Linked DNA regions of Homo sapiens. The protein of the gene in region 1 interacts with the protein of each later gene in a biochemical or structural test. Each region holds a gene or a part of one and is shown on either strand. Other genes may lie near its edges.

What was found. Proteins that work in one complex are often made in the same cells at the same time.
Region 2: the proteins of MAP3K1 (region 1) and RAF1 form a complex in vitro, tested with the Homo sapiens proteins (one study listed by BioGRID).
Region 3: of the proteins of MAP3K1 (region 1) and TOM1L2, one has a biochemical effect on the other in vitro, tested with the Homo sapiens proteins (one large-scale study listed by BioGRID).
Region 4: of the proteins of MAP3K1 (region 1) and ODF2, one has a biochemical effect on the other in vitro, tested with the Homo sapiens proteins (one large-scale study listed by BioGRID).

What each region holds. Positions count from the first base shown.
Region 1 is NC_000005.10:56,874,549-56,878,048, reverse strand, and holds part of MAP3K1 (mitogen-activated protein kinase kinase kinase 1), read right to left. Parts: intron 3,018-3,500; coding exon 2,739-3,017; intron 1-2,738. UniProt on the Homo sapiens protein: Component of a protein kinase signal transduction cascade. Activates the ERK and JNK kinase pathways by phosphorylation of MAP2K1 and MAP2K4. May phosphorylate the MAPK8/JNK1 kinase.
Region 2 is NC_000003.12:12,601,618-12,605,117, reverse strand, and holds part of RAF1 (RAF proto-oncogene serine/threonine-protein kinase), read left to right. Parts: intron 1-828; coding exon 829-982; intron 983-1,580; coding exon of another isoform or gene 1,581-1,640; intron 1,641-3,500. UniProt on the Homo sapiens protein: Serine/threonine-protein kinase that acts as a regulatory link between the membrane-associated Ras GTPases and the MAPK/ERK cascade, and this critical regulatory link functions as a switch determining cell fate decisions including proliferation, differentiation, apoptosis, survival and oncogenic transformation.
Region 3 is NC_000017.11:17,965,901-17,969,400, forward strand, and holds part of TOM1L2 (TOM1-like protein 2), read right to left. Parts: intron 1-3,500. UniProt on the Homo sapiens protein: Acts as a MYO6/Myosin VI adapter protein that targets myosin VI to endocytic structures. May also play a role in recruiting clathrin to endosomes. May regulate growth factor-induced mitogenic signaling.
Region 4 is NC_000009.12:128,466,006-128,469,505, forward strand, and holds part of ODF2 (outer dense fiber protein 2), read left to right. Parts: intron 1-2,919; exon of another isoform or gene 2,920-3,177; coding exon 3,178-3,348; intron 3,349-3,500. UniProt on the Homo sapiens protein: Seems to be a major component of sperm tail outer dense fibers (ODF).

The sequences.
Region 1 (3,500 bases):
GCATATGTACCCACTGATATGATGCACTAAGAAAGGCCTGTCACCTCTGTGGCGTTCTTGTGAAAAATACGTAACTTCCATCTAATCATGAGAAAACATCAGATAAACCCAAATTGAGGGATATTCTACAAAATAACTGGCCAGTAAACTTTGAAAGTATCTGTCAAGGTCATTAAAAACCAGGAAAGGCTGAGGAACTGTCATGGATGAGAAGACATTAAGGGGACATGGTGACTAAATGCACTGTGGGATCCTGGATTGGATCCTGGAACAGAAAAAAGACAACAGCAGAAAAACTGGTGAAATCTGAATAAAGTCTGCAGTTTAGCTATGAAGGGCACTGTTGGGCAACTGAAGAGATTTGAGTATGAACTTTATAGTACAAAACAGTATTGTGATTAATGTTAATGTGCTGACTGTATATGGAAGAATAAATGGAATTATGTATTTGGTTTTAAGAGACACATATTTAAGTGTCATGATGCTGCAAAAAACTCTCAAACGATTCAGCAAAAAAAAAAAAAAAAATTATATATGCAGAGGGAGGGAGAGGAAAAAAAGGAAGAGACAGAGGAAGGGGAGATAAGAGAAAGGGAAAGGGTGAGCCTTAACAGCAGGAGCCATTTCTGCCTCCATGGAGCCTGGTATCCTTTATACAATCTTTGTGCTCTAGGATCTCATAAGCTAGTTGGGAAACAGTCTGAACTTAAGAAGAAACAACCACAACAGTAAGGCAGTTACGGTGTGTACAAAAAGAGTAACACAGCAAAGGCTTTGCAGAAAAGGAACTAGCAAAAAGAGGATTTTATTTAGTCAAGTATGCCTGAAGGTTTGTGTTGGAAAATACTAAGTAAGAGGCAAAATATTGGGCCAATTGGTCTTTATTCTATAGTATGCTGGTCCCTCCAGATGCTACATGAAAAAACAAGGTGTAGCAAAATAACTCTGGGAAACAATGCATTCTATCCTTTGATCCTTTAGGTTCACAATGTACATTAGCTTACTGAAGGATCCTAGAAGCCTTTCAGTCAACAGACCTAGTTATCCTTGTGTAATCCAGTGTTCACCAATCTTAACTGAATACGGGATTCTTTCTTCAGGGAACTTTTCACAACCCTGCCAAACTTCCACAGAATATGCTTTAGGAATGTCAAAGAAACAGAAACCTCTAAAGGTTTCTAAATGATTTGGGGGATAATCCAAGTTGTGTTTAAGAAATAATGATAACTATTATATAATATTAAATGTTCTTACAATGTGCCAGGCATATGGTTGAAAGTTTCTACATAATCTAATTTCAAACCTAAAAGGTATTTTCATTATTTTATGGGTGAGAAAACTGAAGTTTATTTAAGAGAGGTTAAGTAACCTTCATAAAGCCATCGTGCTAGTAAAAGGGAGAACCAGAATTTGAATCCAGGTCTGTCTCTATGATCTTGATCATGTGTTCAGATTGCCTAGGCTAGTCCAACTTTAACCAGCACATTATGCAAGCATTGTGGTTGGAATGATAAATTATGAGATCACTCAATTGTGACTCCAAACCCATGTTCGTAACTGTCATGCTGTATTACCTGTCAAGAAGATTCATTAGGCCCAATCGGTAGAGGATGCATTAGAAAAAGACTGAGGGAGGAAGCCTACAGACTGCTCATGAATTTTAAGAACAGACTAGATAAGAATTAAAGTAGTGATTCTGAATTGGGGGCAGTTTTGACCACTGGAGACATTTGGCAATGCCTGGAGACATTCTTGGTTGTCATAACTGGGGGCATGATCGGGTGGGGGTGGGTTTGCTCCTGGTATCTAATGGGTAGAGGCCAGAGATGCTGCCACAGTACACACATGACAACATCCCTGGCCCTCCCCCCACCCTCCAACAAATAATTATCTAACAAATGTTAATAGTACTGAGGCTGAGAAGCCCTAAAGAGACATATACGCAGAATGGAGAAAGTCCAGTTAGTCTCCTAAATTACCTCCTTGTCACTCTATTCCACCCATGAAAGAACTTTTAACAGGTTAAACTGGAAAACAACTCAATGATCTATGTCATGGAACCCTTTTCTTTGAAAAGGCTTTTGAATCTCCACATGACAATGTTTATTAAAAATCAATCAAAATGTTTATTAAAAACATATCTTCCTTAATATCTGATAAATTTTTTAAAAAATCAGAATAACGTTGATGACTCTGCCATCCCAAAAAGCATTTTTAATTTGGTCATGTATAAGGTATCTGCTCAGAAAAATGTACAGATATGAACAGCAAGACATTAAAAAAATCTTTAAAAATTAGCAAGCTTGTCTAGCTCACCCTATTTGTTGTTGTTCTGTTTTGTTTTGTTTTGTTTTAGGCTTTAGCAGCCTGAAGCCATGGTTTTTAGTCTGTCTCTAGTGGTAAGTGGAAAAGGAGGATGAGGAAGGAGCTTTACTGGCCCAAACAGAAACTAAGAAACCATGACTATATTCTCTCCCTTGGATACCCCTGCAAAGCCTTTAAAACAATGAAACTAAAAAGTAAAACAGTTATATAAGAAACCTTGGACATCATAAAAATCAGTAAAATTCAAATAAACAAAACAAAAGCTGTAATTTCCTGGAATTATGGAATAAAAATAAAATTTGGATTTTCCAAAATTAGGTAAAGTAGCTTTATTGTATCTTAAAAACACTATCTACGAACCATCAAAAAACCCCAAACCCATAATGATATGATTATGGAATAAAGCTACTTACTAAAGCAGCAACGTACACTTTGTAGACAGGGTCAGCACAGACCATTGACAGAACGCTGCAGCATGCCTCCACCACATCTCCTGAGATACTGGTCTGGGAAGACCCACTGGTGGCTCCCCCACTCGGGCTGCTTCCACTGCTGCCCCCAGAATTTCCAGTGCTCTCCCCATTTGCCAACAGCAGGGCCCCACTGACATCATGGGAAAGACGCCTGAGGGCCATCTCTCTCACATTCCAGTTTCTAGAAAATAAGCAGCCAACGAGTTCCATTCCAAACACCTGTATCAAACACACACGATGAATTCAATGTAAAGAAAAGCTTATGGACCCAGAGCATTTTGAGTTTAGCATCATTTTTGATTACTACGTAAAAACTGGACATTTCTGAAATCTTTACCATCCTTCACAACTTCAAATATATCCAGCCACTTAAGCATCATAAGGAAGAATTTTATACTCAAGTTTAACTGATAATTATCCAAAGTCATTAATATTTATTAGCTCAGGTAAAATTAATAATAAGCTCCATTAAGTCACTAGATGGCTATACATACATTCTATGCCTCTACTGTCCCACATGCTTACCAAAACGCCAAAAAACTGTGAAAACCTCAACTCTGTATTCATATTAAGGTAGTTTAAAGAGAAAAACTGGAGCAAGATTAAGAAAACAAACAAACAAACAAAAAACAAATCAAAAAAAGCACCAGGAGAAGGTTTCAAGAGATATAGAGTATTTCTCTTACAGACAAGAGCAATAAG
Region 2 (3,500 bases), on another chromosome or scaffold:
AAGCAAATCTGACCAAGAATTTGTAGTTACCTCTGAAGATTAGAAGAAACCAGGCCTCTGAAGCCATAAAACAGAGGATTATGTGGGAAGGCATTTTTTTCAAGACAATAGAACAATTTCCCTTAGAAAAGCTGGCCTTTTTCCCTTTAATTCATACATGGGTGTTACCTGAATCTGAACAAACCTCGAACGAATCTTTAGAGCAAATAATGAAAATGTTATACCTCTTAATGCATGTTCCCAGTTTGGTTGGTGGGGGTTGGTGGTGACTGGAAGAGGCCAGTGGTTAATTTCACATTTAGGTATTTCCATCTAAAAACTGAATTCCCATTTATTTACTTTGTTTGCTGGTTGTAGCAGGTAAGGACAAACAGAGGGTAAAATCCTGGCCTTTTTACAGACATGCTCAGCACGTCTACTTATCTGTTTAAATAAATTCTCAAATTTAGTCTCTAAACTGGGCGTGTTCCAACTAGCTTAATAGGTGGTAGCGTGGTTGTCAAATGTTAATCTGTTCTTTCCTGGAGATGTTGTAAAAATTTGGAGTAGAGTGGTGCTTTATTTAAAAAAAGAAAACTTATAATGCACTCTCCTTTTCATTGAATTCCCAATACATATATTATTTCCTGTTCCAAATTTTGTATGCAAAAGCACCTAGACTTAAGATAATTTTTAGATGTCACACATTTGAAAGAATCAAACATTTTGTCAAAGGTTGTACAGGTAGAGTTTGCCCTTAAGCATCTTACTTAGTCAAATATGTACTTGAAAGACTTCACCAGTATGAAAGCCTAAGTGCCAATCATGGAATTTTCTTTCTCCTCCTAGTTCTCAGCACAGATATTCTACACCTCACGCCTTCACCTTTAACACCTCCAGTCCCTCATCTGAAGGTTCCCTCTCCCAGAGGCAGAGGTCGACATCCACACCTAATGTCCACATGGTCAGCACCACCCTGCCTGTGGACAGCAGGATGATTGAGGTAATAGGGCACCTTGGGGGTGGTAATGTCAGTCAATTAATGGGGTGAGGTTGATACTTATTTCAGAGTTTTGGGTTTCAAATCTGATCAAGGAATGTTGCAACACTTTCTCAGGTCTCTGGACTTTTACAGTTTATTTTATATCCATAATATCTTCAGACTGGCTGAATAGTCTGGTTAGTATATCATTCAACTGGAGAACTAAAACTTCCTGAAAAAATGTTAACATTTGAACTCTTCCCATTATCAGATTTGAATAGGCTATTAATGAACAAGTGTCTAAGATATTTAAAGAGCAGTTTAGTTTTGGTGTGGGACAGAAATTAACAGTGATGGAGAACTACAGATTCTCTGGAAGACTTTTGTGATTTTATTTAGAAATAAAAGGGTGGAGTCCTAGGACTTTAATAAGCAGGTGTTTGGGGAGATGTCAAAGTGCCCAAAGCTAGTGTTTTTGAACTGCTTTTTCTTCTCTTGGCTTTTTGGTTATGTCCTATTGGTTTAATTTGCTTTCTGCTTCATCTTTAATAACAACTGAATACACTTAAATACTTCCTTTGTTCTTTATTCTTCTTTATTTCTCATTGCTTTGGACTAGAATAACAACCTGAGTGCTTCTCCCAGGGCGTGGTCCAGACGATTTTGTTTGAGGGGAAGAGTAGGTATTTTTCTTCATGCCTTTGCTTTCTTGTAATTAACAGGATTGCTAAAACTGTCAGACAGCAGACTACCAAAAATGAAATAGTTGCTAAGTTAAATTTATATTTCTTGTCACTTGTTTCCATGTTTTCTTTTTCTTTCTTTCTTTTTAAAATTTTTTTTGGCAGTAGAGTATATAGAAGTAAAAAAAATGTTGTATGTGGTATTGATGATAGGTGAAATGAATTTCTGAAGTTAGGCCAGGCATGACGGTGTATGTCTGTTGTCCCAGCTACTCCAGAGGCTAAGGCAGGAGGATCACTGGAGCCCAGAAGTTCTAGGCTGTAGGGAGCTACAATTGTGCCTGTGAATAGCCATTGCACTCCAACTGGGGCAACATAATAAGAATCCACCTTAAAAACAAACAAAAAATGTTAAGTTAGATTTTGAGGCCAAGGGCATTAAAAAGTTTTTTTTTTAAATCAATTCCAACCAAAGGCTAATGTTAGACTTACTTAGTTGGTGCTCACAGCATTGGTATTCTGTTTATACATTAGTAACCAAATGTGTTTTTGGTTGATAAACCCTAGAATAAATATTCTTTATTGAAAGCTTATCAGAGACAACTATGCTCTCTCTCATCATGTAGACACCTGCTGCCTTAGGCACAGTTTATCTCATTCAGACCTCAAATCACTTTCAACATAATTGTCCTGCCACTATTGTGAGGAGATCATGTATAAGCTATAAATTTTATTATTTTGACTTTATCATTATGATTAGTCCTGATAATACAATAATATACCAGTTACTGCTACTTCTATTAAATGGTTTGTTCCTGTATGAACACTGTAATACTTACAGGGAACAGTAAAGGTCAGAATTGGCTGGGTGGGAAGATCACTTGCGACCAGGAGTTCAAGACCTACCTGGGCTATATGTAGCAAAACCCCACCTCTACAAAAAAAAATGTAAAAATTAGCTGGGCTTGGTGGTGTGCACCTGCAGTCCTAGTTACTCAGGAGGCTTGGGCAGGAGGATTACTTGAGCCCAGGAGTTTGAGGTTGTAGTGAGCTGTGTATGATTGTGTCAAGTAAGAATTTTTGAGTTTTTATTATAAAAGAATTAGCACAATTGTTGTGCCTAATCATTTTTTACTTTAGAAGCAGGGTAAATTTTGATTCCTGTTAATTTAATCACATATAAGTCAGCATTTTTAAAGTAGACTAATTGTTGCTTTATTCAAATTATTTGTGGGTCTCAAATTATTCATAGTTCTCTTGAGTATTTAGACTCCAGGAACAATAGGAAAATTCTTTCTAGAATAAATTGATCCAACTATAGAAATTAGCACAGAATAAAATATGGGATATTTAATTGATACAGGGAAGAAAATTACCATAACATTAAGGAAAATATTCTGCTACATAGGAATATAATTGTGGTTAATAAAAATAAATTGTGCTTTGCTTTAAAAACAAAGAACAGCTTAGTTGGATAATGAAATTACAGCTGCCGATTTCTATTGAAATCCACATTATTTTTTGCCAGTGTTTTGCCCACCTGGCAGTTATCCTGCTGTACTTAAAAACACACATTCCTGGACTTCTCACATTCCCCTCCAAAACATGCTCAGTCAATCGTGGGTCGGGGATTAGGGGTGGATCTTCATTCTTCTTTCCAGAGTCAGAATCACTCTCCAGGTAATTCTGAAGACTAGCTAGTTTTGGGAACCAGAACTAGGCTTTCTTGTTAAATTCCGAATTATGTTTTGGGAGCAGGGGAACAGCTTGGTTTGATTCTTTTTATCTAATTATATAATTAGATATATAATTTTATCTTTTTATATAATTGAGTGGGAGCATTCTAGTAATAGTTG
Region 3 (3,500 bases), on another chromosome or scaffold:
ATCTGAGGTCAGGAGTTTGAGACCAACGTGGTCAACATGGTGAAACCCTGTCTCTACTAACAATACAAAAATTAGCCGGGCATGATGGTGGGCACCTGTAATCCCAGCTACTTGGGAGGCTGAGACAGGAGAATCCCTTAAACCCAGGAGGTGGAGGTTGCAGTGAGCTGAGATCGCGCCACTGCACTCCACCCTGGGCAACAGAGCAAGACTCCATCTGGAAAACAAAGAAACAAAAAAACAAACAAAAAACCCAAAAGCCTTTAGCTATTATTATTACCACCTGAGGTCACCCCTCCCCTCCTACATTTCCTTACTGCATTTATCTATCCAATCTTGCAACTACTTTCTATCTGATCTAATTTAGATACCTACACACTGGGAAATTCTCAGCTTGCTATATACAGATAGTACAGGGCCACTGAATAAATAAATGAACAAATTCTAAATAATCACTCTTTTAGCCTGTCCACAAGAAAACCTACATTTAATGTTTGAAGAAAGATAAAGAAAAGATTAAAGAAACAGAACTTCAAAGCAAGAACTACAGTTCTCGAAGTGAACCAGTAGCATCAGCATCACTAGAGAACTTGACAGAAATGTAGAATGCTACTTCCCACCCCAAACCTACTGAAACAGAAACTCTGAGGGTAGGATCCACTTTTAACAAGCCCTCCAGGTGATTCCCTTGCGGCTGAATCATGAGCTCAGAGTGCAAAAAGTAACATAAATGGCAGCACAGAATGAGCACTGGATCAGGAGTAGATTCTAGGCTTCACTCTGCCATTGACCTTGCACAAGTCTCTTAACTTCTCAGAGCCTCGATTTCCTTATGTGATACAGGGATGATAACACCCAAATAGTTAAATGTTGTGAGGGTTAAATGAGATTCTATGTACAGAGTTTGCATATAGTTGGTACTTAATAATTATAAGTTCCTTCCAGTTATCTTCCTGTATATCTCACAAGGTTGTGAACACTAAATAAAATGACTGAAGCAAAAGGGCTTTGCAAATTCCTGCCCTTGAACATCAGACTCCAAGTTCTTCAGCTTTGGGACTCAGACTGGCTTCCTTGCTTCTCAGCTTGCAGATGGCCTACTGTGGGACCTCATCTTGTGATTGTGTGAGTCAGTACTCCTTAATAAACTCCCCTTAATATAAACATCTACCCTATTAGTTGTGTCCCTCTAGAGAACCCTAATACACATAGCAATCTGAGGGACAACTAACTATTCTTGGTACAAATAGCCAGGTTAAACGTCTACCATTCACAGGATATTATGAAGTAGTTTATGTCCAACACCAGTCAGTCTACAAACAAACTCTGCAACAGAATATCTGCTTCTTGCCTGTTTATTAAAGCAGAACAATGAAGAGAATACATGCCCACCACCCCCAATATTCTGGTCAGAATTAACTAACTACTCACTGATCTTTGAATCTAAACTTTACTCTTGGAAAAGGATTTTCTGAAAACTTTTTCTAGCCAACACAAGGAAAACTGCAAACTGCTGCAGACACAATGGACCTGACTTGGGGAACTCCCCATGTATGTCATCCAACTCCAAGCAGTTGTGGAAGGCTGAGATTAAGACAGTTAACATTTTGAAGCTTGTTGCAGAACAGAAAATTAAGAAATACAAGTAAGTACTCTTTCTTCCACCACACTTCTTAGCCTCGCACACCATGGCTAGGCTTTCTCTCTCTTTTTTTTCTTTTTTGGAGATGCAGTCTCGCTCTGTCATTCAGGCTGGAGTGCAAATGGCACGATCTCGGCTCACTGCAACCTCCACCTCCCAGGTTCAAGGGATTCTTCCGCCTCAGCCTCCCGAGTAGCTGGGATTATACGCGCGTGCCACCATGCCCAGCTAATTTTTGTATTTTTAGTAGAGATGGGGTTTTGCCACATTAACCAGGCTGGTCTTGAACTCCTAACCTCAGGTGATCCACCCGCCACGGCCTCCCAAAGTGCTGGATTACAGGTGTGAGCCACCGCACCTGTCCAGCTTACTCTCTCCCTAAACCATGCTTTCTACTCAGGAACTGCCCTCCAGAATAAAGGGCGGGATGGATGCAAGAAATGCACAGTTAACTATGTCAGACTGTGGTCTTAGCCGCTAACTTGAGATGAACACGCTAAGTGTTCTACTAAATCGTACCAGGTTAGAATGTTCACATGAGGCCCACGCATAAGACAGAGTAAGAATTACTCCACCAACCGCTCAGACAGACCCAGGACACCTTTTGTGAGCATGTTACCTCTACCGAAGGCTCCCTAAGAGCAGCTTGTTAATATTTGTATCCCCAGAGCCTGGCACAGGCCTGGCCCCCCACAGGCACTCATAACTGCCTACTGAAGTGAACAGACAAAATTATTTAGGTGTAAGCCCCATGCAGCTGTTGAGAAGTATTATTTTATAAGCAGGGAAAATTAGGTCCAAAGAGACTAAAAGTTGAAGTCAGTTAAAGAACGTAGTCTTTGGGCCGGGCGCAATGGCTCACTCCTATAATCCTAGCACTTTGGGAGGCCAAGGAGGGTGGATCACGAGGTCAGGAGTTCAAGACCAGCCTGGCCAAGGTAGTGAAACCTTGTCTCTACTAAAAATACAAAAATTAGCCCGGCACGGTGCCAGGCACCAGTAATCCCAGCTACTTGGGAGGCTGAGACAGGAGAATCGCTTGAACTTGTGGGGCGGAGGTTGCAGTGAGCTTAGATCGTGCCACTGCACTCCAGCCTGGGTGATGAAGTGAGACTCCATCTCAAAAAAAAAAAAAAAAAGAATGTAGTCTTTGATGCCACCCATCCAGAGCAGGGCTTCCTCCTGTGCCCAAACCCTACTTGCCACCACTCCCCACAGCCACCTCTGCTCCATTCAGACTGGTACTCACAGATGTGCCTGTGCCCCACTCCCTGCCTCATTCAGCTGTCCCTAGGCCCAATGATATTGTTTTCTGCATGCAGAGTTCCTACCCATCCTTTATGAACAGCCCTCAGACTCAAAGAAGCCAGTCCCTGTCACCCCAGCCTCTTCTGAATTGTTTCTGACTCCTTCAGCACTTACAATCTACACCACTCATTGTTTCATGCATCTCTGTCTTCTCTCCTGAAACCGTAAATCCATTGAGGACAGGGATCAGAGAGGGACCAGCTCTCCTTTTTTTTTTTTTTTTGGAGACAGAGTCTCACTCTGTCGCCCAGGCTGGAGCGCGGTGGCACAATCTTGGCTCACTGCAACCTCTGCCTCCCAGGTTCAAGCGATTCTCCTGTCTCAGCCTCCTGAATAGCTGGGATTACAGGCGCCCACCACCACACCCGGCTCATTTTTGTATTACTAGTAGAGACAGGGTTTCACCATATTGGTCAGGCTGGCCTCCAACTCCTGACCTCAAGTGATCCACCACCTTGGCCTCCCAAAGTGCTGGGATTACAGGCATGAGCCACCACAACCAGCCTACAGCTGCTGTTTTTAATCATTAGCTTTGTAGTTGTTATTTTAT
Region 4 (3,500 bases), on another chromosome or scaffold:
GGTCGCGCCACCAATATCAGCTACACAGAAGGCTGAGGCAAGAGAATTGCTTAAGCCCATGAGGCGGAGGTTGCAGGGAGCCAAGATCGCGCCCCTGCACTGCAGCCTGGGCAACAAAGCGAGTCTCCATCTCAAAAAAAAAACAAAAAAAACGGAAAAGAAAAACGAAAAGAGGACTGGCCGGGCCTGGTGTCTCACGCCTGTAATCCCAGCACTTTGGGAGGCTAAGGCAGGCGGTTCACCTGAGCTCAGGAGTTGGAGACCAGCTTGGACAATGTGACGAAACCGTATCTCTACCAAAAATACAAAAAATTAGCCCAGTGTGGTGGTGTGCACTTGTGGTCCCAGCTACTTGGGAGGCTGAGGTGTAAGGATGGGTTGAGCCTGGGAGGCAGAGGTTGCAGTGAACCAAAGTTGTGCTACTGCACTCCAGGCTGCTTGACAGAGTGAGACCCCATCTCAAAAAAAAAAAAAATGGAAAAGTGCAGGGATGTACACCCATCAGAAGTGTATTGCTCCATGAATTTTCACAAGCTGAAGGTACCTGTGTAACGATCACCCAGCATCCTAGAAGCTGCCCCTGGCTTTTGTCTATGTCACTCCCTCCCCATCACAAGGAGTAAGTAGTCACACTTTCCCATATATATATATATATATATATTTGTCATTTTAAAAAATATATAGTCATGTGGCCGGGCGTGGTGGCTCACGCCTGTAATCCCAACACTTTGGGAGGCCGAGGCGGGCGGATCACAAGGTCAGGAGATCGAGACCATCCTGGCTAACACAGTGAAACTCCGTCTCTACTAAAAGTACAAAAAATTAGCCGGGCATGGTGGCGGGCACCTGTAGTCTCAGCTACTCGGGAGGCTGAGGCAGGAGAATGGCGTGAACCTGGGAGGCGGAGCTTGCAGTGAGCCGAGATTGCACCACTGCACTCCAGCCTGGGTGACAGAGCGAGACTCCATCTCAATTAAAAAAAAAAAAAAAAAAAAAAAAAAAAAAAAAAATATATATATATATATATATATATATATATATATATATATATAGTCATATATCAATTAACAATGGGGATATATTCTGAGAAACATGTTGTTAGGCACTTTCATCATTGTGCAAACATCATGGAGTGTACTTACACAAACCGAGATTGGTAAAGCCTGCTACACACCTGGGCTGTATGGTATAGCCTATTGCTCCTAGGCTACAGACCTCTACAGCATGATGCCGTACAGAATACTGTAGGCAACTAACACAATGGTAAGTATTTGCATATTGAAACATAGTAAATATAGAAAAGGTACGGTAAAAATACGGTGTTTTGGGACCACTGTCATATATGCAGTCCATTGCTGACTGAAATGTTACGTGGCACATGACTGTTTATACATTTTCCTATTTTTGTCATTTTAAGTATTAAAAGTAACTTCTTTTCTTCTAAAAGTAATATACATACCTGGATGTGGTGGCTCATACCTGAAATCCCAGCACTTTGGGAGGCCAAGACGGGCTTATCACCTGAGGTCAGGAGTTCGAGACCAGCCTGGCCAACATGGTGAAACCCCACCTCTACTAAAAATACAAAAATCAGCTGGGCATGGTGGTAGGTGCCTGTTATCCCAGCTAGTCGGGAGGCTGAGGCAGGAGAATTGCTTGAACCTGGGAGGCGGAGGTTGCAGTGAGCCGAGATGGCACTACTGCACTCCAGCCTAGGCGATGGAGTGAGACCCTGTCTCAAAAAAAAAAAAAAAAAAGCAAAGTGTTTACAGCTTTGCATAAAGTTTCCTGAAGCATATATGCATTTTAAAATATTTAAAAAAATATTTAAAAAGCTGAGACTACAGGCACCTGCTACCACGCCCGGCTAATTTTTTTGTATTTTTAGTAGACACGGGGTTTCAGTGTCTCGATCTCCTGACCTCGTGATCCGCCCGCCTTGGCCTCCCAAAGTGCTGGGATTACAGGCATGAGCCACCGCTCCTGGCCCTAAAATATTTTTTATACTGACGTATTTAAAAAGTATTGTATTTTTTTAATACAATACTTTCCAGGTATTGTACCATGTGCATTTATAATATTTTTCTACATCATCAAAATAACTGATTACTCCTAAGAGCATTTCTTAATATCATACAATATCTGGTCCTTTTTCCAATTTACCCACTTGTTTCTACAATACCTTTTCAGCAGATTCATCTACCTTTGTAACTAATCCACTATCAGCTATTCATATTCATTTAAAAGACTTTTGACATATTTCATTTCTACCCTAGGTATAAAAAAATGTACTGCCCTAAACTTTTGCCAACTTTGGGTATTATTAATGTTTTTGCTGATTTGTTATATTATTTCTTTATGAGTATTGTTATTTTTAGAGACAGGGTTTCGCTCTGTCACCCAGGCTGGCATGCAGTGGTGCTATCATAGCTCACTGCAGCCTTGAACTCCTGGACTCAAGGAATCCCCTGCCTCAGCCTCCTGATTAGTTGAGATCACAGGCATGTGCCACTACACCCACCTGATTTTTTTTTTTAGAAGGAGTTTCGTTCTGTTGCCCAGGCTGGAGTGCAATGGCGCAATCTTGGCTCACTGCAACCTCTACCTCCCGGGTTCAAGCGATCCTCCAGCCTTAGCCTCCTGAATAGCTGAGATTACAGGCATGCACCACCATGTCCAGCTAAGTTTGTGTTTTTAGTAGAGACGGGGTTTCACCGTGTTGGTCAGGCTGGTCTCAAACTCCTGACCTCTGGTCATCCACCCGCCTCAGCCTCCCAAAGCGCTGGGATTGCAGATGTGAGCCACCATGCCCAGCGCTAGCTAATTCTTTTACTTTTATAGAGACAAGGTCTCGCTATGTTGCTGAGGCTGGTTTTGGCTTCCCGCCTCGGCCTCCCAATATACTGGTTTTACAGGGTATCCAGCCTATGTTCTTTATTTTAAACTTAACATTGTAGCCCAAGCTTTTAATTTTGATGTTGGGAATTCTCCAAAACCATCATTTAAACATGGATAGGTAATGTTCCATCACAAGGGTTCAGAGTATGTTCTTCCTGGGGTCCCCGAGTTAGCTGTTACAGCTTTTCCCGTCTAATCAGTAAATAAGCCTCCAGTGGTGGAACTCGTGGTCAAGGTTCTGCCTTCTGAGTTCATGTGTTTCTCCCTCCTCTACATCAGAATCCACCTCATTGCCTGGAGATCACGCCACCATCTTCAGAAAAGCTGGTCTCAGTGATGCGGTTAAGTGACCTCTCTACAGAAGATGATGACTCAGGTCACTGTAAAATGAACCGTTATGATAAGAAGATTGATAGTCTAATGAATGCGGTTGGTTGTCTGAAGTCTGAGGTGAGGGAGGTAGGGGGCTGGGATAGCTACTACCCTGAGGATGTGCAGGAGCACCCAGGTGGATTTCCTGCCTGGTCCCTCAGCCTGCGTCTGCAGGCCTTCAGGCCTCCTCTGCAGGGTTGCCCCGGGCTTCAGTTGCCTGCCCCGGGAGG